4 linked regions of the Homo sapiens genome follow. The protein of the gene in region 4 interacts with the protein of the main gene of each other region in a biochemical or structural test. Each region holds a gene or a part of one and is shown on either strand. Other genes may lie near its edges. The genes, in order: IGF1R, HSP90B1, INPP5D and SIRPA.

Region 1 (7,035 bases), on a different chromosome or scaffold from region 4:
TTATGCAGTTGAACTGTATAGCTTCTCTAGTTTTGTGTTTTTAATGTTCTGAAATTCAAAACAGCAGGGATGGCCTTCGCCGACGCAGGAGTCGGGCATTTTAAAATAGGCTGTTTTTCTTTTGGAGCGTTCTTCTTGAAGGATATTCTTTGTGCAAGACGGCGATTTTTGAGAACACAGGCAGGAGGGAGGGGGTGTTTTAATGTATGTTTTTACTCCATGATACCAAAGCTTCCCCCCAGGATCCCTTTACAGTGGTTAGTTCCTGGAAACCTGATGGGTGGTCAGAAGGCACCCCAAATCTCGATTATGGTTTGCTGAAGTCTTGACTGACTCAGTACCTGCCCCTCCCTCCATCTCTGAAATGTGGAGAATTAAAAGCTATGCCTGTGAACGGGCGTTCAGTTTTTAGCCGGGAAGGTGCTAGACCACTTAACTCTGATAGAAATAAGCTGCTGAGCCCTATCAGGGAGGGCGTTCTTTCAGCTGTTGTCTGGTGGAGAAATAAAGACAGGGTGTTGGTTCAGTTGCAGGTATTTTGCTGGCGTATTGAGAGATTAGAGTTTCCTCTTTGAGTGTGATGGCAGTAGAAAGAGTGTTGTTTATCTTAGAAAACTTAGTTTCTGAAGCAGAGGCAGTCATATGGATGTGTTTGTTTTGTATCACCATAATGTGAACAGAGCATCTAAATGAAGGCGGTTCGGAGGTTCTGAGTGATAGCCAGATAATCTGAGGGCTATTTTGTTTTTAAAAAGTCAGCATGCACTTTAAATTTATTGTACCCATCTCCTTAAAAGGATTCAGTCATCTTTCTACCCCAGGCATCCTGTTGTCACAGAAATGTAGGTATGTGAAATGTTGGTGTTTAAAGAAGTTAGTGTTTTATTACCAGAAGGAGAACCCAGAAAAAGAACTTCTGAAAGAACCTAAACAGCAAATTATAGTTTAGATCCTCTGGAGAGACATAGCAAGCAAATGGTGTTTTGTGGAAGGGTGGGGTTTGTGTCAGGATTTGAAATGTAAAAGGTCATAATGTTTGATTTGTCGAAAAAGATTAGAAAAGTTCAACTCTAAGAAATATGCTAAGGTTGAATAGATGAAGCTTAAAAATATCACAAAAAGTGAAAGAAGTCAGTCACAAAAGACCACATATCGTATGATCCGGTTTATGTGAAATGTCTAGAATAAACAAATCCATAGAGGCAGAAGGTAGATGAGTGGTTGCCAGGGGCTGGGGGCGGATGGAATGGGGAGTGACTGCTGGTGGGCACAGGGTTTCTTTTTGGGGTGATGAAAATTGTTCTAAAATTAGTTTGTGGCGATGGCTGCATAGCTCTAAATATACTTAAAACCATTGGATTATGTACTTTAAATCGGGGACTTTAATGGTATGTGAATTATATCTCAATAAACCCTTTTTTTTTTTTTTAAAGAAATGTGATCAGGTTGAAAATAACTTGTTATGCTACCTTAAATTACGTTAAAATTATTACATACATTTGACAGGCTGATGTCTCTCTCTCTTTTCATTTATGAGTTTTTCAGATCCGTGAGTTGCAGCAATACAACAAACTGATAATTGAAGCTTAGCAACAGGGATTCAATCCCGCAGTAGAAATGGGCAAGCAGGAGAAAAAGAATCTTGGTTCTATGTAGCTTCAGTTAGGGATTGAGGAGCTGGATTTAAAAAACACAAATGCTGGTGGAGGGCAGATTTTTGACAATAGAAACCTCAGCTGAATCTGAAATGATGGTTTTTTTCAGGATAGAGTTTAGGAGCTGAGTCTGAAGGGCTGTTTGTATTTCCAGTTTTATTATGTTTTCCAACAAAGAAAGACATTGCTGTTTTAAGATGTTTTAAACACTCATTTTTTGATATGCCACATTGACCACAAGTGGTAGTAAGGACTGAGGATGAACAGAACAGTTCATTTTAATGCAGTATTGTTGTTTCTTTTCTTTGCAGTTTTATTTTATTTCTTACATAGTTCCAGGGTCTGAGCAGGAGAAAGAATCTTTAGGATGCAGTAGTTTTAGGATACACTGTTTCAAGTATACAGTGATTTTTATAAAATTAAAATTCCTTACAGAACGAAAGGTTTTAAAATGTGGCAAAGGCATTTTTGTTTTGAAACTGTGTGCATTTATCCAGATTTACCCTGGCCTTTCAATAGGAAAAGACCTAGAGAATAATTGTTGTTTACATTTGCTTTTGGTCTTTGTCTAAGGCTTAGTTTACTAATAAAAATGTTTCCTGCCCTTCCTATTGTTGCAAGATCAGGGCAGTAATGAAAATCAACTGTATCATTTTCACTTGTTGCCTTAGAGTTTTTGCCAAGAGGAACCCTCAAGGGACGGTGGTTTCCTTTTAAATCTGGTTTCATTTGTTTTGTAAGAATGTGCTGTAAGAAGCAACTGAATCCAGCCTGCACTTATTGTGCACCTACTGTATGAAAGCTGACCTTGTGCTACTCAGTGCATGAACCTGCAGAGTCTTGCATGAAACCACCTTTCTTGAAATTCAGATTTTTTTTCAGACTCAGTATAGGGTGCAGTTTTCAAGTAGACAGTAGTTAGCATTTTAAAGGTTCTTTTAAAAATATTTCTGTAGACTTAGGACTCTAGTGTTGTTCATCAGAAGCCTTTACCCTATACCTTTTTTGCCTCATTGGTGCTTTCCGTTATATTGGGATGTCACTGTAGACTGTGACATACAGGTGATGTTAACCCATCTTGACTGGCGGCACTGTCTTCTTTATAACATTGGATATGGCAATTGTGATTTACAAACTGCAGTGTTGTAGTTGCCTTTTTCCAAAAATTAGGAGTCACAGGTGTGTACATGAACGTTGCATAGCATGTTTTGAGTTGTAAGAAAGATGGAACTTATTTCAGAAGTTTTCTGGATTACATATTGCTTAGTTAGCTTTCTAGAAATCAGGAAGCATTCATAATTTCAGGGCATTTTATAATTTGTAAATAACTTGGTGTTTTTAAAAGCGTGAGGGAGTAAGAGTGAGGAGACAAATCCTGAAAGTTTTTGTTTTTTAATTGTAAAGCATACAAGATACATTTCTTTATAGGTTGTGATTTTCCCCAATTTGTTTTCAAAACTCATTTAAAAATCAGACCTAGTTCATGGAAGAGGTATTTGCGCCTGTGGGCGAACTTGATTTGAACTGCTTTTCTTAGCCAGCTTAGGACAGGTGCTGAGTCCAGGGGATGAGCTCTTCTCAATTGTACTAAATATATAATAGTTGCACACATGTTACGGATATAGTTTCTTGATTTCCAGTCTGAGATGTTCTGAAGGAAAATTCTGAACACTTTAGAGACAACAAAGTGCCTAATGAGTGATGCACTCTGATCCCTCCTGGAAAATGGTGTTTGGCATCAGCTTAGCAAGAGGAGGTTTTCCAGTTATTTGTAAAGATGTGATGTGGCTTTAAGTGGGGATGGGGGAGGGTAGCAGCCCCAGTGTTTGTGGACATTGAGACCTGTTGACATTTGGGAAGCATAACTGAGTTCCACTATTTGAAAAGATTAAAACTTTGATATATGTACACATCCCCTCATGCCTGCACCCCCATCCCCGAGGGTCTGGAAAAGAATTGATTTGTTCTGAGGAAGGAACATATATTTGGAATATAAAATGGTTAGTAAACAAAGGATCTTTAAAACAAGTTAGATTGTTATCTCAAGAGAAGCATACTTCCTCGGCATGATGTTTTCTTTTGTTAAATTGCTTTGGTTTTATTTGACTCAAAGTATTAACAATACCTTTGATTTTGAGACTTTTGGACTTTTGAAGACTAAGTTTTTAAATGGTCAATTTTACTCGTTTGAAAGTCCCAGATACCATTTTTGAAGATTTCTCTCCCTTTTTTTCCACTGATGCCGGCTTTACTTATGTTTTATTTTCAAATCTTAAGGAAAAACTGATATTTCCTTACTTGAACTGAGAAATAGTCGTTTTCCCTCCCTCTTTTCTTCCACAGTAAATACATGTTGAGTACTTACTGGATGCAGTTCTTTAGGTTTAGAAATTATTTGATACTGTAAAATGTCTTACCATAAGTTTTTAAAGATACCCGTCAAACTATAGATGTTACTGCCATGTTTATTAAAAAAAAAAATAAAACGAAACAAACTAGTAAGCAAGCTTAAAATTTTTCTTTTTCCTGCCCTGGACTACAGATTTTTTTTTCTTTTTTTTTTTTGAGACAGGGTCTCTGGTCACCTAGGCTGGAATGCAGTGGTGTGATCACGGCTTGATTCTGCCTTGACCTCCCAGGCTCCAGTGATCCTCCCAAGTAGGTGGGACTACAGGCACACACCACCATGCCTGGCTAATTTTTTGTATTTTTAGTACAGACGAGGTTTTGCTATGTTGCTCAGGTTGGACTCAAGCGATCCACTCACCTCGGCCTCCCGGAGGGCTGGGATCACAGGTGCGAGCCACCGCCCCCAGCCTACAAGAATTTGTAAACTCATAGATTGCTCTTCTGTTTTCACTGGACCACAACAGAAAGTAGTTTCTTTTATGGTGAGGGATGAACACCTACGATTGCAATATAAGTTGTTGGGCCTTGTGTCCATGGAGCTCACTTGGTGGTTGGTGGTCTTGAAGCATTCACATTCTTTGGAGTAGTGGGGCGGCTGGCTAGTCACATGGGGAAGATGTGCACACCTGTGGATGGGGCCATCACACACTGCAGCGATAGCTGGGCCTACCTTACTGCTCACCTGGCTGGGCACAGCGGCTCCTGCCTGTAACCCCAGCACTTTGGGAGGCCAAGGTGGGCAGATCACTTGAGGTCAGAAGTTCAAGACCAGCCTGGCCAACATGGTGCACCCCCTTTCTACTAAAAATACCAGAATTAACCGGGCGTGGTGGCCCGTGCCTATAATCCCAGCTACGTGAGAGGCTGAGGCAGGAGAATTGCTGAAACCCAGGAGGCAGAGGTTGCAGTGAGCCAAGATGATGCCACTGCACTCCAGCCTGGGTGACAGAGCGAGACTCCATCACACACACAAAATACATATATAAAAATAAATTGCTCACCTGGTAATAGTCTGGAAAACATTTTTTTTTTGTTTTTTTGCATATTTTAAAGACTTTAGAAAGTAGTCTTGCTAATCCAGAAAGTTCTTGCGGGGAGGAGTTTGAAACTTTGTTTTATCTCACTCCTCAGTCTTAGCCCCCTTAATACCATAGGTCTCTACTTCAGTAAGAGTTACATAATACGAATGCCGTTTGTTCAGAATTGTGTATCTCCATCCATCCGTCCATCGTCCAAATTCTGCGAGTTTGAAATACATTGTTGTTGCTGTTTTGTATACTTTTGTTCAACCATTTTCTTTTTAACATGGCACTAGCTTTCTCAAACTGGCTTTGGAATTATTTGTCAGTTTAAAAATAAATACCACTTTAAAAATTACTCTTGACATGGGAGAACAAATATATTTTGATAGTTGTTAGAGCATAAATATTTTATAGAGCATAACTTGAAATTTTTCCTGATACATTGTGATTGCTTTCAGCTTGTCCTCTGCTGTAAAAAATATAGTCGTGGTTAGTCTCTGTAAAGTTGGTTATTGGGAATATGTGCTTGATTACGTAAATGAGACATCACCAATTTAAGTCAGCCAAAGTTTAGTCAATAGAACTTTAAAGAACAGAAGTCTAATGGTAATTAGGGAGAGATGAATTTATTTGTAGGAGTTTTCCCCAAATTCAAAGCGTCTTAGTGACCTTTGATAACTTCCTGGAAAAAGTAGGAAGCATGGAGAGAAATTCCAGGTAGGAGCCCATGATCCAATTGACTGCATCAGCTTACAAAGTGTTTTCTAAGTCATTAGCTATTAATTCTGTCTAGATTGTAAAATCCCTCTCAGTTGTGTCCACATTTATCTGTGTTGTCCTGTATTTATTCTCTTTACCTAATTTCCCTGAGTCTCATTTTAGTGGGATAATACACAAGCTTACAGACTCAGGACTTTAAAGAGAAGCACAGATTGCCACGAAAACAAATGAACACAGAGACCAGTAGCAGCAGAGGGAGATCTGCTGTGAGGCTTCCCTTAGTTCTGTTGTCTGATTTCTGTGGATAATGAGTTCACTGCATATGTTAGGTCACAACATGATATCGTGTAGTCGTAGGTACAGAACTTTTGTTATGGTAGCCTTTCTTCGTCAGGTGATACAATTGGGATTTTCTTTCTCACATGCACCTCAGTAAAATTTTCAGCAACAGAGATTGGCTCAGGATGGAATTTGTTCAGTTTCAGTTCTGCAGCCTGTCCTTTTCTGGGGAGACTCATTAATTGAATGTTGCCTTTCGATCTCACTGAGTCACTTGAAATCGCTCAGATTGACCCCTATTCCGGGATCCAGCCTGGTCCAGTGCAGACCTGCATTGACTCTGACTACATGCTGAGTTGGCCTCTGAACCAGTTCCTGTACCATTCCCTTAGTCTGATGGACTTGCCAGCTCCAAATACTCAGAACGTGCCTCTTGTGGTCCTAGGATCAAGTCCAGGGTCCTTAGAATCAAGTAATGAAACAGGTCCTTAGTAATCCTGTGCTGTAGGGATCCACTGTTAGTTCCTGGTACTCCCCAGCATCTGTGCATTAGCTTGATGGAAAGGAAGCTGTGTTATGCCTGTCTTCAAGTTTTTGCTTCTGCTGTTTCCATAGCTGAGAATGTTTTTCCTCTTCACTACTCTGCTACTTCTCCTTCCATCCTCAATACTGAATAGCAGAAAGTGCCGCTTAAGAACACAGGAAGGTCACCATAGCTTTAGTTTCTCCTTAGCTGCCAATTAGTTCTTTGGTCCTAAAGTTATTAACTTTTCTGAGTCTTGATAGAAATGCGGAGACTTAAAAATATTTGGGGGAGACATTTCTCCTTTTCTCACTAAACAACAGAATGAAAACCTTTTCTAACAGGTTTAGAAAACCAAAGTCAGAAAAATTGTGAGGAAATAGAATAGGTTTTTTAAATTGAAATAATTTCCAAGTTCCAGGTGGAT
Region 2 (7,000 bases), on a different chromosome or scaffold from region 4:
AACTTTATCAATGCTAGTTTTGCATCCTTAAGAGTTACAAGAAGGGATCAATAAAAGAAGAAGAAAAAAAAAAACAGGCAAGGAAACATAAATTTAGTAATTATTCCCAGGCATAGGATCTCACAATAAGTGTTTGATGTCATAAGCAAGCTCTTTAAAGATTATATTAAAAGCCACTTAACAACATGATTTCATGTTTTACGGGTTTTGTGGTGGAAATCACACATCTACCTATGTAGGTGGTTCTTAATCTTTTTTTGTCACACAAAACCCTTGGCAAGCTGGTGAAGGCTACAGATGCCTTCTCAAAATAATTTTTTTAAAAAAATCACATATTACAAAATACACAGGAATAAAAAGGAAACCAATTGTGTTTAAACAGCCATAAAACTGTTTCAAACATTCTTGATTTTGTAGTTTCACTATTCACTAAGAGCTAGGACTAATTTTAATAACTGCTGCAATTTTGAAGTAGTGATGAGTATAATAATTCAACTTAAGTAAAAATGGTGTGTTCTGGAAACCAATTACTCTCAAAGACCATCTCTACTGAGGTGTCAATCTCAAAGGTTCATAAATGTGATTTTAATTGTGACTAGGTCAATAAACCAGAAGTAGACATATTATAGTTGGCCTAAAGGTCTTTTTTTGAATTTTCTCACTGGGAAAAAATGGGAATGGACCATCTCATATTCATGGTCACATACCATATACAATTAAACTAAGAGGGTGATATTTTGTCTATTCATTAATAACCAGAAACTAGGGAATTATAAATATTTACCTTTGAAAATGATTTGTAGAAAGCTTTGTATTCATCTTCTTCTACTTCTTTTGATGGTCTCTGCCATATTGGTTTGATATCATTCATAAGTTCCCAGTCCCAGACAGTTTTTTCAACCTGAAGTTATTATAGTATTTGATTAGTCTCTCTCAGCACTCACCAAGGTTATCCTAGCAGTAACCATGGCTTCAGTAGATTTCAAAAGACTATGTAAAGACCCAGAGGACTGGTGTGGTGGCTCACGCCTGTAATCCTAGCACTTTGGGAGGTTAGGGTAGGAGAACTGTTTGAGCCTAGGAGTTCAAGACCAGTCCAGGCAACATAGCAAGACCTCCAACTATACAAAAAATTTTTAAAACTTAGCCAGTCATGGTGGCGTGTGTCTGTGGTCCTAGCTACTTGGGAGGCTGAGGTGAAAGGACTGCTTAAGCCTAGGAGTTCAAGGATGAAGGGAGCTATGATCGTGCTACCACACTCCAGCCTGGGTGGCAGAGACTCTGTCTCCAAATTAAAGAAAAAAAAAAAAAGGGCACCAAAGGATACCTGTTATCTAGTAAGGTTTCTGCCAACTGTATCAAAAGCAAAGTATTTTTCTCAATATTTAATTCAAAAAGACAATTGTTAACTGATGAAAAGCCACTTAAGTTTTTCTTCATTGTTATTTTTTAACTAGCAAAAATGTTTCTTGAAAATATTTGTTTTGAGGTTAGAAGGAAATACATATTATATATTCCCATTTCATGACTTAAAGAAATCCAACATTTTACAAAAATATTTCTCAACCACCATGATCAATACTTCTTAGTCTGCTACCTAAGCAAGCCAGAGAACCATTTTTATGGTTAATCTCTGCATGATAAAAAGACAAAAGAGGACTCAGAAGGCTTTTTAAGATTTTAAAATTCCAAACATATAAGCCACCAGTCCTAGGCAATATATAAAAGTTAGAAAACTCTTCATAAAAATGACCTGGGTTTGATACTTAAAACTTTCTACAGGACAATGTATTCAACATACAAACAAAGGCCTTATTTTAAAAGCTGGCTCCATGGACTTAGCACCTGAACTGAAGCTGACTTCAAATCAGCCAGTGCATACTTAGGTTTTCCTGGTTTTGCCTATACATGTTAAACAATATCTTATGCAGGGAGATAAACCAGACTTACTTTTTTAGTCTTTGGTTTCTTTTCTTCTTCTTCTTCCTCTACTGCAGCTTCATCATCAGATTCTTCTTTCTCTTCTTTGGCTGCTTCTTCTTCCTCCATGGGCTCCTCAACAGTTTCAGTCTGTTGAAATAAGAGAATTATGGTTAAACTCATTTGTTTAACAATTCTGATTTTGTCTACAGAATATGATATAACATTACAGGTCAAAAAATAGGTTTTTGTAAGAAAACCCTGAGAGTATCCTTAACTAATAGACCACATTTTGCCTTCATTCTTTTTTTTTTTTTTTGAGACAGAGTCTTGCTTTGTCACCTAGGCTGGAGTGCAGTGGGGCGATCTTGGCTCACTGCAACCTCCGTCTCCCGGGTTCAAGCAATTCTCCTGCTTCAGCCTCCCGAGTAGCTGGGATTACAGGCGTGTGCTACCACACACCCAGCTAACATTTTTGTATTTTTAGTAGAGACAGGGTTTCGCCATGTTGGCCAGGCTGGTCTCGAACTCCTGACCTCAGGTGATCCACCTGTCTCGGCCTCCCAAAGTGCGGGGATTACAAGCATGAGCCACCGCGCCGGCCTGCCTTCATTCTTTTAGTGTTGAATATTTAAATACGTGCCAAGGTAATACATATAAGTTTTTAATCAATATAGATTTACCTTGCTGCTCCATACATAAATAGGAAAGTTTATGAACTGTGAATATTTTTTGACGAGATTTTTAATTGTATCCAATTCAAGGTAATCAGATGCTTCTTCTTTTAAGACAAGGCTGCAAGAAAAATTCGATGTTTAGAGACACCTAACATTTAGAAGATCTGATTATAAATTCATTTAAATACCATGGTAATAGCCAGCAGTTCAGTATAATCCAAGATGTCCTAATTATTCATGTTAACTCTCCATCACCAACAAGGGTTTGTGAGCTAAAATGTAACACATGTAGATACAGTAAAGAGAAGAATCTCCTCTACATTACCTCAAGTGGAGAATAACCTTAGTTTTAAGTAGAAAATTAAAATATTCCCAACCGTCTGAATAGATTGTTTTCATTTTTCAAGGTGAGAAAGCACTGAAATATTCTGGAGAGAAATGGAATCATGCACTCTCATAGCTCTTACTGTTATTCCAGAAACCTAATGATTATTGTAGATAACTATTCCTAATTAATGAAAACATTTTCCTTAAAAAAGCTAGAAAATTAATCTGGTTTATATTTATATCTGCACTATCCAAAATGGCAGCCACTGGGCACATGTGACTTATTTAAATAAAATGTACAGTTCAGTTCCAGTTATGCTGCCACATTCCAAGTACTCAACAGTCACATGTGGCTGGTGATCGCCAAAATGGAAAAGTGCAGATATAGAACATTTCTACTATTATATAAAATTCTACCGGGCAGTGCGGGGATTACAGGTGTGAGCCACTGTGCCCGGCCTAGAACCTACTCTTAAGCACAGTAGGTAGTCCATATCTTGATACTTGTGTTCCCAATTAAGTATGGGAAATGGTCTATCTATGGTTCCCTCCCTGTCTCAAAAGGCTCATTAGTTTAGTGGTACCTGGCCAATAAGTAGCCATGATATGACAAAGCCTAGTGAGTGACTAGGCCCCTGGTCTCAGAGCACATGTTCTAGTGATTTGGGGATTAAGAGTTCAGTTTTGGATGCAAGTAGAAGCTGCTGGTTAGATATCTTAGGTAGAAGCATTTAAAAGGCAATTAAACACATGAACACAGAGCCCAGTAGTGAGACCTAGACAAGGGGCTGGCAAGCTATAGCTGTACAGCTGGCACCCATTAGAAATTTTATTGGGACACTTTTTTTTTTTTTTTTTTTTTTGGACCTCTGTCACCCAGGCGTGATGATGGCTCACTGCAGCCTTGACCTGCCAGGCTCAAGCAATCCTCCTACCTCAGCCTCCTGAGTAGCTGGGACTACAGGCATGCACCACTGTGCCAAGCTAATTTTTTATTTTTTATTTTTGTGGAGATGGGATCCCATTATGTTGTCCAGGCTGACCTCAAACTCCTGGGTTCAAGTGATCCTCCCACCTCAGCCTCCCGAGGTGCTGGGATTATAGGGATGAGCCACCACACTTGGCTGGGACACATCCTTATGTATTGTCTATGCCTGCTTTCAAGCTAAACAGAGTTGGGACATGTGACAGACCATATAGCTCACAAGCTAAAAATATTTACTAGCTGGCTCTTTCTTTCTTGTTGTTTTCTTTTATCTTTTTTTCTACTAGCTGGCTCTTTTAAGAAAAAGTTTGCTAACTCCTGATCTAGGCTAAGAATATAAATTTGAGAACTAGAGATGGAACCTGAGGCCGTGGCAGTGGATAAGACTACATAAAGATCACATGGACAATGAGAAAAGGGCTGAAACTTAACTTGGAGAAAATGTATGTTAACATTTAAGAAGTGGGCAAAGGAAATTTTTAAAAAGATATGCATGGTCATGGAAACTAGGTCCTGGATAGGTGTTAGCAGCCATCGTTCCCTGCATGGAACTGTCCTGTTTAACCTCACTTATTCATACAAATGGCTGCCAATTAAGTGTTAAGCTTTGGGAATGGAGCTTCCAACAAAATGTTTGCCTTCATGGAGCTTATATCCAGATAATTTCACCTGCTTCTTAGCAACCTGACATTAACATCTCTTGGGACATCACTTTCTATCTTTCCTTGGGAATGATTGCCCTATCCTTCTCCAACATCTAGCCCAGTGCTTAAAAAGAGAGGGCACTGGGGCATAACTCTTAGTGATGCCTCCAAATGAAACCTGGAGACATCAATGTTAGTGACGAAGGCAGGGGAAGGTAAATTGGGAACACAAGTTAAAAAAGTACTAAAATGCAGTCATCTAATTAGTCTTCATTAAAAGAACATCTGCTGCAGTAAAAACAGGAAATGTTACTTTCTAGGATGAAGAAAGTTGGTCACAATGATAAGTATGTGCTTCTTTCCCTTAATGTTAAGAAAACTTAAAACTGAATTAAGAAAAAAAAATTGAAGCTGTGGGCACATTCTGTTACTCACTTAGCAGGAGTTGGCAAGCCAACTGACCTCTGAAATAGAATTTCCTCATCTCCAAGATGGTAAAATTTTAAAAAGGCAAAAAGCTGCCCTGTCTACGTCACAGTGCTATAAGCAACGAGAGCTACTGTAGGGCACTGGCTCTGTCTCACCCATACAAACAACAGTTACTGGCTTAAGAGGGATCTTAATTCAAATTTAAAAACTTGTAACTATCCTTAAATGACGTATTTTATTCCACAGCTTTCACAACTTTCATGAACTTTCTTTAAGCCCTTTATCTCTACAAGCCAGCCCCAGCCCTGGTTGCTACCACTCATCTTGAATATTTTCAAGAGGAATATTTCCCCCAAAGAGTCTCCCCTTGTCCACTCCTCACATCCTCCACACCACCTTGAGAATCTTAAAAAGTTCATCACATTCTGGCTGGGCACGGTAGCTCATGCTTGTAATCCCAGCACTTTGGGAGGCCGAGGTGGGTGGATCACGTGAGGTCGGGAGTTCGAGACCAGCCTGGCCAACATGGAGACACCCCATCTCTACTAAAAATACAAAATTAGCTGGGCGTGGTGGCACATGCCTGTAATCCCAGCTACTTGGGAGGCTGAGGCAGGAGAATTGCTTGAACCCAGGAAGCGGAGGTTGTGGTGAGCCAAGATTGTGCCATTGCACTCCAGCCTGGGCAACAAGAGTGAGACTCCGTCTCAAAATAAATAAATAAATAAAAGTTCATCACATTCTATCCATAACTGCCACCGAAAAGAACTCTGTTCATCTAGTGAGCATGCTATGCCTCCATGCCTTTATTCAGGATGCTCCACAGACAAATTACTCTTCTAACCTGGGAAACTGACCAAGCAGTGCCTCCTCTGTGGGTACCCAAGAAGCCTTCTCCCTTGGGGAAGCTGCTGCTATTTCCTACTTTATACCCTCCATGTACAACAGCAATCACAAACCTTTGTGCCTGGCCCTTTGCAGGTCCTCAAACATTTCTTCAAGTGACAACAGTTCTGTTTCCTCATTTTATAAGGCAGGAAAATTAAGGCCCAGAATAAGTCATTTGCTCAGAGAATAGAACTGGAGAGTCAAGATCCTCACCATGACTATTAATTCTTATAAGGAATTGGTCATACTCACGTAATTGTCGTTCCCCGTCCTAGAGTGTTTCCTCTTGGGTCAGCAATTACAGAAAATTCATTGGAGTCAGACTCCCAGATGTGCTGGGTATCGTTGTTGTGTTTTGAAGTGACAATAACCTTATCTGCTACAAGGAAGGCGGAATAGAAACCGACACCAAACTGGCCAATCAATTCAGAAGTTGACTGGCCATCTTCCTGTGCTTCAGTCATTTTGTTTAAAAACTCGCTTGTCCCAGATTTGGCTATGGTACCAAGGTTTTTAACCAACTCTTCTCTGGTCATTCCTACACCGGTGTCTGTGACATGCAGCAGGTTCTTCTCCTTATCACACTAAATGCAAGACAAGAACCAGATAGTTGTATTTAATATTTACATTATGCCAAACAAATATTGAGGAACTAACCAGCTTTGGGTCCCATCAATTCCAATACAGAAAACTAAACTGAGATATTTTCCTCCACATAGTTTTTTATGGCCTTTTCTGAAAGTGTACATCTTAAAGTAATTTATGTATTTGAGAAAGTATTAATATCAAATGGGCAGACTGGCCTAAATGTCAAAGGTTAGAGGCTGACCTAAATAAAACAAGTTACCTTTGAAGGAAAACAATTCAAGAAAAATAAAATTTTATGTCTTGCCTATTTCTTTACTAGAATACAAAACAACTTGAATGATTCCTCTATTTGGAATCTGTGATGGATCATTAATATTCTTCACTCAATATTCCTGGCTGTCTGCCTTCCAGAAACTTAGGAGTACTCTACTTTCCATTTAAGAATGGCTAAGGCCATGTGACTAGTTTTGGCCAATGAGTTATAAATGGCCAATGAGTTGTAAAGGAGAGCTCTGTTTTCAGGCTGAGCCTTTAATTATAAT
Region 3 (7,035 bases), on a different chromosome or scaffold from region 4:
CGTTGCTTATAAAAGTTCCATTGTTTATAAGTATCACATTTATCTACTCTACTGTTAATGGACATAGGGTTGTTTTCAGTTTTGAAGATTACAAACAAGGCTGCCATAAACATTCATTTTTTTTTTTTTTTTTTTTTTTGAGATGGAGTCTCGCCCTGTTGCTGAGGTTGGAGTGCAGTGGCATGGTCTCGGCTCACCACCATCTCCACCTCCCAGGTTCCAGTGATTCTCCTGCCTCAGCCTCCCGAGTAGCTGGGATTACAGGCGCCCATCAGCATGCCCGGCTAATTTTGTATAGAGACGGGTTTCGCGGTGTTGGCCAGACTGGTCTGGAACTCCTGACTTCAGGTGATTCACCTGCTTTGGCCTCCCAAAGCTCTGGGATTATAGGCGTGAGCCACCATGCCCGGCTAAACATTCTTATACCTATTTTTGGTGAACAAATATACAAATTTCTCTTGAACACACACCAAAGCGGAATTACTGAATCATAGAATAGGTGCATTTTTAGTTTTCATTGATTCTGCCTAACAGTTAGTTAAGTCCTTTTTTTTTTTTTTTTTTTGAGACAGGGTCTCACTCTGTTGCCCAGGCTGGAGTGCAGTGGGGCAATCTCAGCTCACTGCAACCTCTGTCTGCCGGATTCAAACAATTCTCCTGACTCAGCCTTCTGAGTAGCTGGGATCACAGGAGTGCGCCACCACACCTGGCTAATTTTTGTATTTTCAGTAGAGATGGGGTTTCGCCATGTTGGCCAGGCTGGTCTCAAACTCCTGGCCTCAAATGATTTACCTGCCTCAGCTCCCAAAGTGTTGGGAATACAGGCATGAGCCACTGTGCCCAGCCTAAACAGTTACTTCTTAACATTGCAGTTCTCGGCATCAGCTGCCTCTGAGAATTACCCGTGGGGCTCCACAAATAGTCATGTACCACAGTAATGGACTGCATATAGGACAGAGGTCCTACAAAATTATAATGGAGCTGGAAAATCCCCATCACGTAGTGCTGCTGTAGCTGTCATCACGTCACAGCGCAACACATTACTCACATGCTTCTGGGGATGCTGGTGCAAACCAGCCCACTGCACTGCCAGCTGTGTAAAAGCATAACAGTACAATTCTGTTCAGTACATAATATTTGATAATGATAAACAACTGTCACTCATTTCCGTGTTTACGATATTATTTATCATTAGAGTGTATTCCTACTTATAAGAAAATGTTAACTATAAAATAGCCTCAGGCAGGTCCTTCAGGAGGTAACCAGAAGAAGACATTGTCATCATAGGAGACGACAGCTCCATGTTATTGCCCCGAGGACCTTCCATGGGATGAGATGTGGAGGTGGGTGATAATGTCATTGACCATCCTGAGCCTGTTTCAGCCTAGGCTAATGTGTGCATTTATGGTTTTTGTTTTTGTTTTTTTTTTTGAGACGGAGCCTTGCTCCAGGCAGGAGTGCAGTGGCGCCATCTCGGTTCGCTGCAACCTCTGCTTCCAGGTTTCAAGCGATTCTCCTGTCTCAGTCTCCCAAGTAGCTGGGATTACAGGTGCACACCACTACGCCTAGCTAATTTTTGTATTTTTAGTAGAGACAAGAGTTTTGCCATGTTGGCCAGGCTGGTCTCGACCTCTTGACCTCAGGTGACTCACCCACCTCGGTCTCCCAAAATGCTGGGATTACAGGCATAAGCCACGGTGCCCAGCCTACGTCTTAATTTTCAACAAAAAAGTCAATGTAAATGAGAGTTTTGAAATTTTAAAACTTGAAAAAAAGCTTATAGATTAAGAATATAAAGAAATAAAATATTTCTGTACAGCTGTACAATGTGTTTGTATTTTAAGCTACATTTTATTACAAAAGCGTCAAAAATTAAATTGTTTATAAATAAAAAGCTTATAAATAAAAAATTACAGTAAGCTAAGGTTAGTTTATTATTGGAAAAAGAAAATTTAAAAAATAAATGTAGGGTAGCCTAAGTGTACAGTGTTTGTAAGGTCTACAGCAGTGCATAGTAATGTCCTAGGCCTTCGCACTCATTCACCACTCACTCACTGACTCACCCAGAGCAACTTCCAAGCCTGCAAGCTTCATTCATGGTAAGTGCCCTATACAGGTGTACCACCTTCTTTTTTTTTTTTTTTTTTTGAGACACAGTCTTGCTCTGTCACCCAGGCTGGCATGCAATGGCGCGATCTCGGCTCACTGCAACTTCCATCTCCCGGGTTCAAGCGATTCTCTTGCCTCAGCCTCCCGAGTAGCTGGGGTTACAGGCGTGTACCGCCATGCATGGCTAATTTTTGTATTTTTAGTAGAGACAAGGTTTCACCGTGTTGGCCAGGCTGGCCTTGAACTCCTAACCTCAAGTGATCCACCCACCTCGGCCTCCCAAAGTGCTGGGATTATAGGCATGAGCCGCTGCCCCCAGCCCATTTTTTTCTTTTTATACCATATTTTTACTGTACCTTTTTAATGTTTAGATACACAAAAACTTATTGTGTTACAGTTGCCCACAGTATTCAGTAAAGTAACATGCTATACGGGTTTGTAGCCTAGGATCAATAGGCCACACCATCTAACTGAAGTGGGCTTTGTGTATACACACTTCATGAGGTTCCCACAATGACGAAGTCACCTAATGACACGCTTCTCGGAACATATCCCCGTTGTTAAGCGACGCATCGCTATTTTCAGCTGCCTTCTGGGTATTTTCTCTGGGTTCTTCCACTGATGTCACACAATCAGTAAGTCTGAAAACAAGTTCTATTTTTTTCCCCTTCAAGCCAGCTCCGCCTTGTGATTTTCCAGTTTTTATCAATGGCAATCAGGTCTCGCAATATATCCTGATTTCCCCCTTTCTTTCATTTTCACTGTTTTTTCCCTGATTCGGCCCTAGCTGTTGCTCAGCTGAATGTGCACAACGGCCTCCTCACCGATGCCCCTGCCGCGTCCTCATCCTTTACCACAATGCCCACCACAATTCTGCACATGCCACTCTGATGCACCAGTGCCCGGCAGAGCTTGCAGTGGCCCCCTGTGGCCTGTCATCCTGGCATCTAGGACCGGCCACTCTCCCATCTCAGGCCCTCCTCTGCCTCAACTTAAACTCACATCAAAGCAAACCATCCTTCACCAGCCTGCACAGGGATCCCCAAGGACCTGCTCTGACAGTGCCTTTGGGCCAGGTGACCTTATCCACACAGCAGGCAGTGGACCCTGCGGAATGGGGTGTCCCATCCTGGGGGTCCCAGCCTCGTGGGTGACAGCAGTCCGGGATCTCCTCCTGTCCTCTCAGTTGTATTCTCTTCCTCTCCTGCTCTGTTCTAAAATCCACCCAGCGCTTGGCCTTCCTCTCCCACGTCCAGTTCTTCACTTTCTCCTGAGCCCAGATGGGGCCCAGAACTCTTTCAGATGACACTTTGAACTTGCGCTCCATTGCCCTAGGCTTCTAGTGGGCCTGGGTACCTCACCGTCCCAGCCATTTGACCCTTGAATCCTGCCAGGGGCTGGCTTCCCTGATCCTTCCCTGCCCTGGCATTGTCACATTCTGGCTCTGGCTACAGCTAGTTGCATATCTGTTTTTCCTACTGTGAAGTCCCTGGAAAAGACATCTTTGCTCTCCCATCACCTAGGAGAGTGCCTAACCCATAATAGGCCATCAGGAAATATCTTTGAACAAATGAATACATATTTTATTGCATCTTTCCCCAAAACACTGTTCCTTGGAAAACAAGTGGCCTCATAAGACATTAATTGGTGTTCCATGAATAACTGAGTTTGGCATACAGATTTCCTCATGGAGAACCACAGTGCTCTTGGGCCCATAAAAGCTCTGATAAGTCCTGCAGCGAAGAAACCTGCTTAATGTTAATTCACTCAGCAGTTTAGTAAATATATTTGATCACGGGACTTTAAAAAAATGATCTTCAGAACCCAGTTAAGGAAATAATACTTTAAAGTCCTCTCAGCATCTTAGAGTATCTGGACAGAAGGTAAATCACAAGGGTTATTTTCCCAGCTCAAAGCAGTGCACAAGTGTGGCTTCCCATTTACTCTGTAACACAAATCAACATGTGCTTTCTAATTTTTTTCTTTCCTTTTTTTTTTGCCTAATGGATGAAGACACTTTCTGTTCACCTTTTGGGAACAGACACCAGCGGGGAGGAGATGGAGGGCAGGGAAGGTGTCTATGAAGAGGACTCACCCCTGTCGCTTTCTGCTTGGTGTAGGCGTATTTGTCCCGAGTCAGTCTCTCAAAACGGTAGGTTGGGGCAAACGTGATTTCTTCCTCCTCTGAAACAGAGAGACTTTCGTTTTAATTCTGATTCCCCAGGTTTTGCATCTGGCCAATTTTCCCTATTCTTCTGGTAGGAAATCAGGGGAAAGGGGACGAAAGGATGGCTGGAAAGGCTCCAAGAGGAGAGGCTGCTGCTTTTTTTTTTTTTTTTTTTGAGACGGAGTCTGTCTTTGTTGGCCAGGCTGGAGTGCAGTGGCGCGATCTTGGCTCACTGCAAGCTCTGCCTCCCTGGTTCACACCATCCTCCTGCCTCAGCCTCCCAAGTAGCTGGGACTACAGGCACCCGCCACCACACCCGGCTAATTTTTTGTATTTTTTTAAGTAGAGACGGGGTTTCACTGTGTTAGCCAGGATGGTCTCCATCTCCTGATCTCGTGATCCGCCCGCCTCGGCCTCCTAAAGTGCTGGGATTACAGGTGTGAGCCACCGCTCCCAGCCGGGGTTGCTGCTCTTACCGAAGTGTAGGAAGACCTTCTGCTCCCTCCTCTCTGTGAGCAGCTGGTCGTGGGACAGGAGGTCTGCGTACTGCTGCTGCTTGATTTTCTGGATGATGGTTTCTGCCTCCTGGAACAAGAACATGCCCGGGCCTCTGGTGAGAAGCCCTGCTGATCCAGGCCTGACAAGCTTCGGGGCTGGGGGCGGGCAGCTGGATGACCCGGGCTGCAGAGTGATGGTGGCAGGGTGGCTGTGACAGTTATGGGAACCGGGTGTGAGCACAGGGGAACCGTGAGGAGCGGCTGAGGCTCAGTAATGGAAACAGCGTTGAGCCCCCAAGGGGAGCAGCCGCCTCAGCCCACTTGATTCACATGTCTCCACGACCACCTGCCCCAAGCTGACTCAAGGGAGCCTCCATCTCATACAGCCCCAGCCCCAGCCCCAGGCGGGCAGCCCTTACCCAGGTAGGCAGATCCACACGGTAGTTAAGATCCCCAAACCAGAAGAGGTGCGTGAAGCGGTGAGTGATGTTAAAGGGACTCAGCTTCTTGTCGCCCAGGGCCAGGAACCGGAGAATGTTCATATAGTTTTGGTTTCGCCTAATGCAAGGAAAAAGCGGCCATCTAGCACGGGGTCACTGGTTCCCCCTCCACTGTGGCAGGAAGTCACTCCTGCCATAGGTGTGGGGCGAGGAGCATAGCAGGTGGGGGGAAGTGAGACTTAGCCCTCCAGCCCTGCTGCAGCAGAACTCCTTAGTGTGCAAATATGGCACAGCCAGGATGCAAAGGGCATTTGAGGCCACATTGGGTGTACAGAGGGCAGGGGACCAGGAGCAGCAGCATCTGCTCAGCAGAGAATCAGAACAGTGAAGATTCTAGATGGCTGTCTTCATTCCTGGGCCCCAGCTAGGCAAGATCAGCTTGGATTTGTAAGGAGGCCCCAGAGGAGGCTTTCTGCTTTAGAAACAGTGCTAGTTAGCGGTCCATCAGGCTAATGACACAAGGAAATATCTTTTCTGACCTTCAGACAAAATTCCTCCACACGTGAGGTCACTATGGTGCTGCAGTTGCCTTTGATGAGACTGTGGTGGGCCCTGAAAGGCCACAGGACATCCACAAGGTCAAAGGCAGGAGCTGAGCAGGTCCTTCTGGTGCTTAAAGGTGTGAGGCGTGTCTGGGCAGACAGCCCAAATGCACACTCTTGGGGGGAAGGAGTTCCATTACCTGAGTTTCTTTTCACTTCCTGAAGTCAAGTGGCTGTTGACGAACCCTAAGGAGGTTCCATTGAACATGAACGACACCCCCACGGCTCCCTTGTTCCCTAAAAAGAAGAGCAGAAAGAAGAATCAAAATATCAAACAGACACACTTGCCAAGGGGCCAGAAATCACCCGAAGGCAGGGTGAGAGGGGCAGTGAGTGAGGAGCTGGCAAGGGATGGGCGAAACAGGGTCGTGCAGGGTGGGAGCCGCTGGGCAGAGAGCGGGAGATGAGAAAATGCAGGAGCAGTGCAGATGGCGGCAGCCTCAGCCTTCTCGGCGGGGCAGAGGAAGGTGGCTGCTGCGATCCTCCCCCGGCATCTCTCTCTAAAGTGACCAGGGTGCTAAGCGGGCAGCCAGAAGCCCTGGGAAGATTCAGAAGGTTCCAGCCTGGGTGGGCTGATCTCCCTCCCAGTGAACTCAAGTTTCCTGGGGAGACCAAAAACCCACACTGAGATCATACCTTTTTCTGCCAACGTTCTGATCTATTCTAGGTCAGTGGTTCCCAAAGGGAGTTCCCTGGACCAGCAGCTGCACATCACCTGGGAACTTCATGGAAGGGCAGATTCTCAGCCCCACCCCAGACCTACTGAATCTGAAATCCTGGGATGGGGCCCAGTAATCTGTGTTTGACAAGCCCTCCAGTGTCAGGGGTGGGCAAATGCTGGCTCACTGCCAGCTACAAATGGTTTTACATTTGTAAATGGTTGGAAACAAATCAAAAGAAAAACCATCTTTTGTCATTCATGAAAATACGAAATTCAAATTTCAGTGTTCGTAAAGAACACGTTACTGGAACACAGCCATGCCTATTGACTTCTGGATTGTCTGTAGCTGCTTTCAGACTACGATGGCAGAGCTGAAGCATTGTGACAGTTGTGTGGCCCAAAGAGCCTAGAATATTCACCATCTGGCCTTCTATGGAAAACGCTTGTTAACCCCTGCTCTAGGTGATTCTGACACATGCAGGTGAGAACCTGCTCTGTCCAATACAGGCACAGGCCACATGTGACTATCAAACACCTGAAATGTGGCTGGTACAAAATG
Region 4 (7,035 bases):
GTTCAGAAGCATCCACACCCTGAAAAGCTGTTCTCCCATCTGGCACCCCAAGAGGACCATCTTTTCCAACTTGTCCTCCGTGACCTCTGGGTGTCTATCCCAGGGGTTTTCAGTCCTGACTCTGTATTAGAATCTTCTGGATTAATTAAAAACTTTAGATGCCTAGGCCCATGCCAGGCCAATTGAAGAGGCATTTCTGTGGTGGAGCCTGGGATTTATTTCAATGTTTCCCAGATGATCCTAAAGAGCAGCCAAGATTGAAAACTACCTGAGTACATCCTAAGGACCATTTATCCTTGAGGCCTGGAGGAGCACTAACCCATCTGAGGTTGCATGGCTTCAGCATCACACAGCTCACATCTGTTGAACATTGACTGCAGGCCAGGCGCCTGCTGCCCTAAGCACGCTACAGGATTTAACTCATTCGGTCCCAACTCCTGGTCTGTGAGGTTGGTGTTATCACTGACAAGTGAGGACACTGAGGCCCATGGTGGTGGAGTGCCTTGTCCCAGGTCACAGAGCCAGGAGGTGGCAGAGCTGGGATGTGGCCCAGGCAGTTGGACTCTGGCCACACTCTCCTAACCACACTTCTGCAGGAGCTCAGTGATAACCCGAACACCGCCACCATTCCGAGGCTCTGTACATCCTCTCCAATCCTCACAGAACCTGTGAGGGTTGGCAATCATCATCATCATTTCATAGACAGGGAAGCTGAGGACTCAAGGGAAGCCAGGATTTGCCCAAGATCACATGACCTTGGGAAAACCCCATTGCTTACTAAGGTCTATCGTCGCCCCAGGCTCATTGCATCCTCATAACATCCTGGAAAGGTTGGTACAATTATCGACGTTCTACGCATGGGGAAACTGAGGCTCAGCAAGGGGAACTGGGTTGCCCAAGGTAACACATCTTAAAATAACACCTTGATGGCAGGGCGCAGTGGCTCACACCTGTAATCCCAGCACTTTGGGAGGCCGAGGTGGGGGGATCACCTGAGGTCAGGAGTTTGGGACCAGCCGGGCCAACATGATGAAACCATGTCTCTACTAAAAATACAAAAAAAAAAAAAAAAAAAAAAAGCTGGTGTGGTGGTGGGTGCCCCTGTAATCCCAGCTACTTGGGAGGTTGAAGCAGAATCGCTTGAACCCAGGAGGTGGAGGTTGCAGTGAGCCGAGATGGTGCCATTGCACTCCAGCCTGGGCAACAAGAGTGAAACTCCATCTCAAAAAAAAAGAAAAAACAAACAAACAAACAAAAAACCTTGATTTGGGGGTGTCTACTCTGCATTGGGTGTTTTATACACAGGAACTCAAATCCTTTCCACTCTGCCAAAGGAGTCCCTGATTATCACCATTCTACAGATGAGGAAACTGAGGCTGAGAAAAGCGAAGGCACTGTCTCCTCATCCCTCATGTACCCAATGGGCATTTCCAGTGTTCCCCAAGCTCTCATGTCAATCAATTGAGCAAGTGCCTGAACTTCATGAACCCTGACACTGACCACCACCTTCCCTTTTTCCCTTTGAGATCCCTGACTTCATGCAGTTCTAGGGAGAAGCCTCCCTCCAGGGTACCCAGATCTGGTTACCCTATAGCCATAAACTGAAGTCAGTGGGCTCCTGACAGCCTGAGGGGATAATATAAACTCTTGCTCCAATGAGCCCCAAGCACCCACCAGGAAATGCCTCATCTCCTCATCCTTAGTCCTCAGCACCGTGAGTAGGTGGGCACGTGGTCTGCTGGGCTGCAGGAGGCCCAACTCTGCTCCATGGATGCTACTCAGTGATGTGCTGAGACCTGTCCTTTAGGAACAAGTTCCCATATCATGAGACATCTGCAGGACCTTTCTGATGGGGGCCAGTCCCTCCTACTCCCATAGGACTTGTTTTGTTTTTTCTTTCAAGACAGAATCTTGCTCTATCACCCAGGCTGGAGTACAGTGGTGCGATCTCGGCTCACTGTAATCTCCGTCTCCTGGGTTCAAGCATTCTCCTGCCTCAGCCTATGCTTATTGCTATAGAACTGCAAGAGTTTGGAATGAGTAGGGTGGAGCATTTCTCCACACTTTGACAAGCATAGCTGAGTGTTACAGAGACAGGGGCTGTGAGTCAGGCTGGTGGGGATCAAACCTTGGCTCCCCCACTGGCTCACCACACAGGTCTCCTCTCTGAGCCTCAGAGTCCTTATCTGTAAAGGGGGCAAGAAATGGCTCTTCCTTCATAAGTACTTGTTATAAAAGGAGAAAGTGCCAGGATGAGGATCCAATCCAGCTGCTGCTCCCTGGCCCCCTCCCACCTCCCTCCTTTCTCATCCAGGGCATCATTTAGGCTGACAGCATGGCAAAGAGGAGTGAGCACTCTGCTAGGAGTCAGCAGATCTGGGTCACACCTGAGCCACGTATTTGCTGTGATTGTCTAGGCACGAGATGCATCATCTGGGAACTTCAACGTCTTTTCCTGTAACATCTGCACAATCAGGATAAAGCCACCCTCCCTGCCTATGTCCAGCGGTTGTGGGGAGACTTGATTGTTATAATGTCTAGGAGGGAAATTAGGCCATATCCACACACATTAAAACACACACCCCCTCTGATCTAGCAATGGCACTTGCAGTGGGCGTCTCCCACCTGAGTAAGGTCACACATGTATAAGGTCATCCACTGCAGGACTGTTTTAATAGTTCAAGTTTGGGGACAAGTTACGTATCCATCAATGGAAGATGGTAAAATAAATCTGGTATTTCCATAAGCTGGAGTATTCTGTAGCTATTACACAATGGAGCAGGTCTCTATCCTGATATGAAATCTCAGTATCAAATGATATGGCTTACATTTGGGAGCGGTTTTCCAATCACCAGTGGGCCTAACGGTCTGAATGTGAATATTCTGAACCTTTAGGAAACTGATGGAAAGGAGAAGTGCTGGCTTCCTGCTTAGCAGTTCTGTTCAAGGAGCTTTCAGTCGGCACCTATGATGCACCAGGCTCTTCTATGTAAACAATGGCTAATGAAGGAGCCTCCCTGGAATCAGATGTGGGCTCTGGTCCAGATCCTGTCACTAACTGGGCCTATGACTGTGGACAAGGCCCCTGTCATCTCCTGACTTCAAGTTTCCACCTGTAACTAGGGGTTGGGCTGGATGGTCTGAGGGTCCTTCCTGTACTAATGTCCCAGGATTCGGAGTTAGAACAAGGATCCTGGGGCTCTGGCAGTAAATACAAAATGAGCATCTTTGCTGCCTTAACGGAGGAACCCAAAGTCACCTAGAAGGGAGACCTCCTCCCTGGGGTGAGAGACATTCTATGATGACCCAGCTTTGTTCAGAGCCTTTAGTGACGCATGAATCAGTCCCTAAATCACACAAGTGTTTTTCTAAAAGACCCACAGAAAATGCCCAACCCTCTGGCTTCTCCTCTCACCAGGGCCATCAGATTAAACAGTAAATCTGTGCCTTTTAGGAATCTTCTCAGTTGGTGTTTGGTGATGAAATAAAGGAAACACACCCTCTCTGCTCCCTGCCCTGGGTGGATCTCTTATTGGAAGGGATGAGAACACAAGCTTGGCGGAGCCTGGCACACAGTAGGTTCTCAGTGAGTGCCTGTCACATAGAGGAGACTCGGCTGCCCTGAGAGGGAAGTGCTCTCTGGAGGCAGCAGGTGAGGTCTGGTCCTGTGCCTGGGCAAGTCACACTATCTGTCAGTTTCCTCATCTGTGGAATGAAAGGGCTGGGTCAGCTTTGAAGAGGCCAGGGCTACACAGCCAGGCAGATGAAGGATGCAGATGTTCCCACCCTTTACCAGCTGTGGAGCCTTCAGCAAATAGCATGACGTCTTCAGGCCTCAACTTCCCTTATTTGTAAAAGGGGGAGACATCAATTCATGGAAAGGAGCACCTACCACCACACCTGATCATTGCTCAAAGAATGGAGGGTGTTATTATTGAGTTACTGTCACAAACCAGAGGCAAAGGAGGCCCACGCTGTACTCACCGCGCACAGACAGCTCAGTGCCTGCTCCAGACTTAAACTCCACGTCATCGGGGCTCCCTTTCCGGAACTTCACACAGTAGTAGGTGCCGGCATCTGCTGGGGTGATGTTACCGATGCGGATGGAAAAGTCCATGTTGTTTCTCTTTGTGAGGTCTGAAACAGTTGTTACCCGGGGGAAGTGGCCTTCTTTTTGATTGTAGATTAATTCCCGGCCTGGTCCAGCTCCTCTGAACCACTGGATGGGCCCCACAGGGATCAGAGAGGTCGCAGTGCAGCGCAGAGTGGCTGTCTCTCCAGCTGCAACCAACACGGACTTGTCAGGCTGAATCACCTGCAGCTCCTCCTCACCCGCCACTCCTGGAAAGGAGCACAAAGCAGTCATTTTTTCATCCTTACGTGATCCTCTGTGTTTCCTCAAGTGTTTATCAATGACGTTCATTGACTGGATGCACACCAGAAGCAGGCTGTGAGATCAGTATAGTGCATGTATCATCTCATTTGACCCTCACAACAAACCTGCAACATGAGCCTGTATTCTAAGTGGGGACACTGAGGCACAGAAAGCTAAATGACATGGCAGAGAGTGGGTTTGAATGCCTGGACCCTCTCTGGAAGAGTCACATCTGAGCTGGGCTAATTCTAATCTGAATGAGCCAGAAGGGAGCCTGGTATTCCAGACAGAGGGAACAGCCTGGGCAAAGACTCAGAGGTAGGGGCCTGGCATATCTGGGGCTGTACAAGGTGTTAAGATTCTGTTTCTGGCCTGGCCCAGGATGCAGGCCCCGAGAAGGGAGGCTGTACTCAGCGGTTTGGGCAGTAGGAGAATGTAGTTTGAGTTCTGGATCAGTGGCCTATAGCTGTGTCCTTGGGCCACCACTCAGGTAACCAAGAATATCCAATGTAGACTCGTGCCAGTGTGTTTGAGTCCCCACCTGGAACCCAGGACTGAGCCTGGCTAGCAAAGTGTCACACAAATGCAAGAGCTGCCCTTAGTTTGCCCTTACTGCTCTCAGCCTTGGTTTCTTCATCTGTAAAATAGTTACTATGACCCCACCTCGATGGATCTCTGGGAGGATAAAATAAGCCAAGGCTGGGGACAGCGTCCAAATGCAGCATCTGGTCTTTAGAGTCATCGGACCTGGTTTGAAACCTGGCTCGCCCCTTGTTCTTGTGGGACCTTAATTTATCCATCAGTTTTGAGTCTCAGTTTTCTTATCTACAGGATGGGTAGAACAGCCCCCAGGCCTCTGCTTTGTTCTGAAAAGAAAACGAGATCACACATAGAAGTCACTTAGCCCTGAGATGGGCCCTGAGGAAGTTGTTGTTACTATACATTGAATAAACAAGGAGGTGGCTGTGGCTCAAACTTCACTCTCACCAACACCTGCTGATGCCCTGTGATCCAGGCCTCACTGTGATGGGGACACACTGGAGCTGGACCCAGTCCAGGCCTCAAGGGCTCCCAAATGGGCAGCTGGAAGGAATTGTAGAGGTTGGCTGCAGGAGCCTGAGCCCCAATCAGAGACACTGGGGCACACAAGACAGGGACCCTGGGTGGAGAGATTGGGGTGCACGGGGGGAGCCCAGACAGGAAGAGGGCAGGACGAGCTTGTCATGAGATGCGTTGAAGATGGATAGGGACCAAGTGAGAACAGTTCAGAGCAAGGCAGAGCCAGGGCCTCGATTCTGAACAAGGTGAGGTACAAGAAACAAAAAAAAGAAAGATCATGATCATAAAGACCTCAGAGAAACACATGCCTGAGAGACAGACGCAGAGTGAGAGAGCGAGCTAGAATAGGGGAGAAGGAGAGAACCAGGTAGACAGAGGAGTGGCAGCTACCTGGTATGCAGGTGACAGGTGACCTGGGGCCCCAGTTGGGCTCTCCACTGACCCTTCATGTGACCTTGTCCTGCCCTGACCTGGGCCACCTTTGCCTTGTACATCAGACAAGGCTGCGGCAGATGTCCAGAGCTGCTGTGCCCCTCTGGCTCTGGCTGGGGAGGAGAGAGACCCTGTGAATTTGCCCACCAACCCATGGCCTGGCACCACCCCACTGGCAGGGGCAGGGCAGCCAGGGAAAGAGGCTCACAGACCCCTATCTGCCCTCACTGCAGGAAGCCCAGGGCTATCTGCCCATTGTCCTGCCTCTTTCTCCCATTCCCAGCCTCACCCAGTCTTGACTCTGGCAAGGGATCACCCTTGGGGCCCGGTTCTCATGGCAGGTGAGTGGAGTCTCAGAGTGCCTAAGACCACTCCACCTGCTTTGGGTGTAAATATTACCATTTCGACTTCCTTTTCCTGATCAACCACTTAAGACCTCAACTGCTTTTATTATCAGGAAGTCCAGCTTCTCATTTCATTTCCATTTGAAGTTGAACATGGCAAGATCTTCATGGCACAGGAGAAAAAAACAGAACCCACAGTGGACAGACAGAACCCACAGTGGACAGAGGCCCAGCCAGCATCAGACGGCCTGAGAGGGGTGAGGCTGGTGGCCAAATGTGTGGGAGGCCCGGGAGGCCCATCCAGGCGGGGACATCAGAGGCAGCACCAGCAGCACTGAGCTAGGAACTTTCCGGATAGGTCTGTATTTCAGCCTCGAGACTGGACCAACTGGAAAGGCTGCCTCGGGGAAGCACAGTTGCTAGGGCCAGCAGGCCTGGGTGACAGCATGGCTCCCCTCTTAGCCACCTCTGTACCCACCTTCCCTGGACCCCCATTCCATCATCCATGAAGTGGGGTTCCGGCATCCACCCCAGCACAGTCATGAGGACCCTGACACGGTGGTATGCCTGCTGCATAGGTGCTGGGTAAGTTTTAATTCTTATTCCCATTATTATCACATAGCTGTATTATTCACATATTTGATTTTCTCTGGATTGTCACATTCCCAATAGTAGGATGTAGGATCCACAAGGGACTGTTTCCAACCTCCTGCCTAAAACACAGTGTCATCGATAAAAATATGCAGAATGAATGCGGTAATGAATGAAGGAAGGAAGGATGTCGTTGGCTCCATGACCCTGGGCAAATCTCCTCTCTCTTCATGT

What was found.
Region 1: of the proteins of SIRPA (region 4) and IGF1R, one has a biochemical effect on the other in vitro, tested with the Homo sapiens proteins (one study listed by BioGRID).
Region 2: the proteins of SIRPA (region 4) and HSP90B1 form a complex in vitro, tested with the Homo sapiens proteins (one study listed by BioGRID).
Region 3: the proteins of SIRPA (region 4) and INPP5D interact in a biophysical measurement, tested with the Homo sapiens proteins (one study listed by IntAct).

Annotation. Positions count from the first base shown.
Region 1 is NC_000015.10:98,651,520-98,658,554, forward strand, and holds part of IGF1R (insulin-like growth factor 1 receptor isoform 1 precursor), read left to right. Parts: intron 1-7,035. UniProt on the Homo sapiens protein: Receptor tyrosine kinase which mediates actions of insulin-like growth factor 1 (IGF1). Binds IGF1 with high affinity and IGF2 and insulin (INS) with a lower affinity. The activated IGF1R is involved in cell growth and survival control.
Region 2 is NC_000012.12:103,933,410-103,940,409, reverse strand, and holds part of HSP90B1 (endoplasmin precursor), read right to left. Parts: intron 6,455-7,000; coding exon 6,123-6,454; intron 2,716-6,122; coding exon 2,604-2,715; intron 2,071-2,603; coding exon 1,951-2,070; intron 902-1,950; coding exon 785-901; intron 1-784.
Region 3 is NC_000002.12:233,168,322-233,175,356, reverse strand, and holds part of INPP5D (phosphatidylinositol 3,4,5-trisphosphate 5-phosphatase 1), read right to left. Parts: intron 6,053-7,035; coding exon 5,956-6,052; intron 5,332-5,955; coding exon 5,193-5,331; intron 4,862-5,192; coding exon 4,753-4,861; intron 4,294-4,752; coding exon 4,205-4,293; intron 1-4,204. UniProt on the Homo sapiens protein: Phosphatidylinositol (PtdIns) phosphatase that specifically hydrolyzes the 5-phosphate of phosphatidylinositol-3,4,5-trisphosphate (PtdIns(3,4,5)P3) to produce PtdIns(3,4)P2, thereby negatively regulating the PI3K (phosphoinositide 3-kinase) pathways.
Region 4 is NC_000020.11:1,912,405-1,919,439, reverse strand, and holds part of SIRPA (tyrosine-protein phosphatase non-receptor type substrate 1 isoform 1 precursor), read right to left. Parts: exon of another isoform or gene 5,118-7,035; coding exon of another isoform or gene 5,039-5,117; intron 4,342-5,038; coding exon 3,985-4,341; intron 1-3,984. UniProt on the Homo sapiens protein: Immunoglobulin-like cell surface receptor for CD47. Acts as docking protein and induces translocation of PTPN6, PTPN11 and other binding partners from the cytosol to the plasma membrane.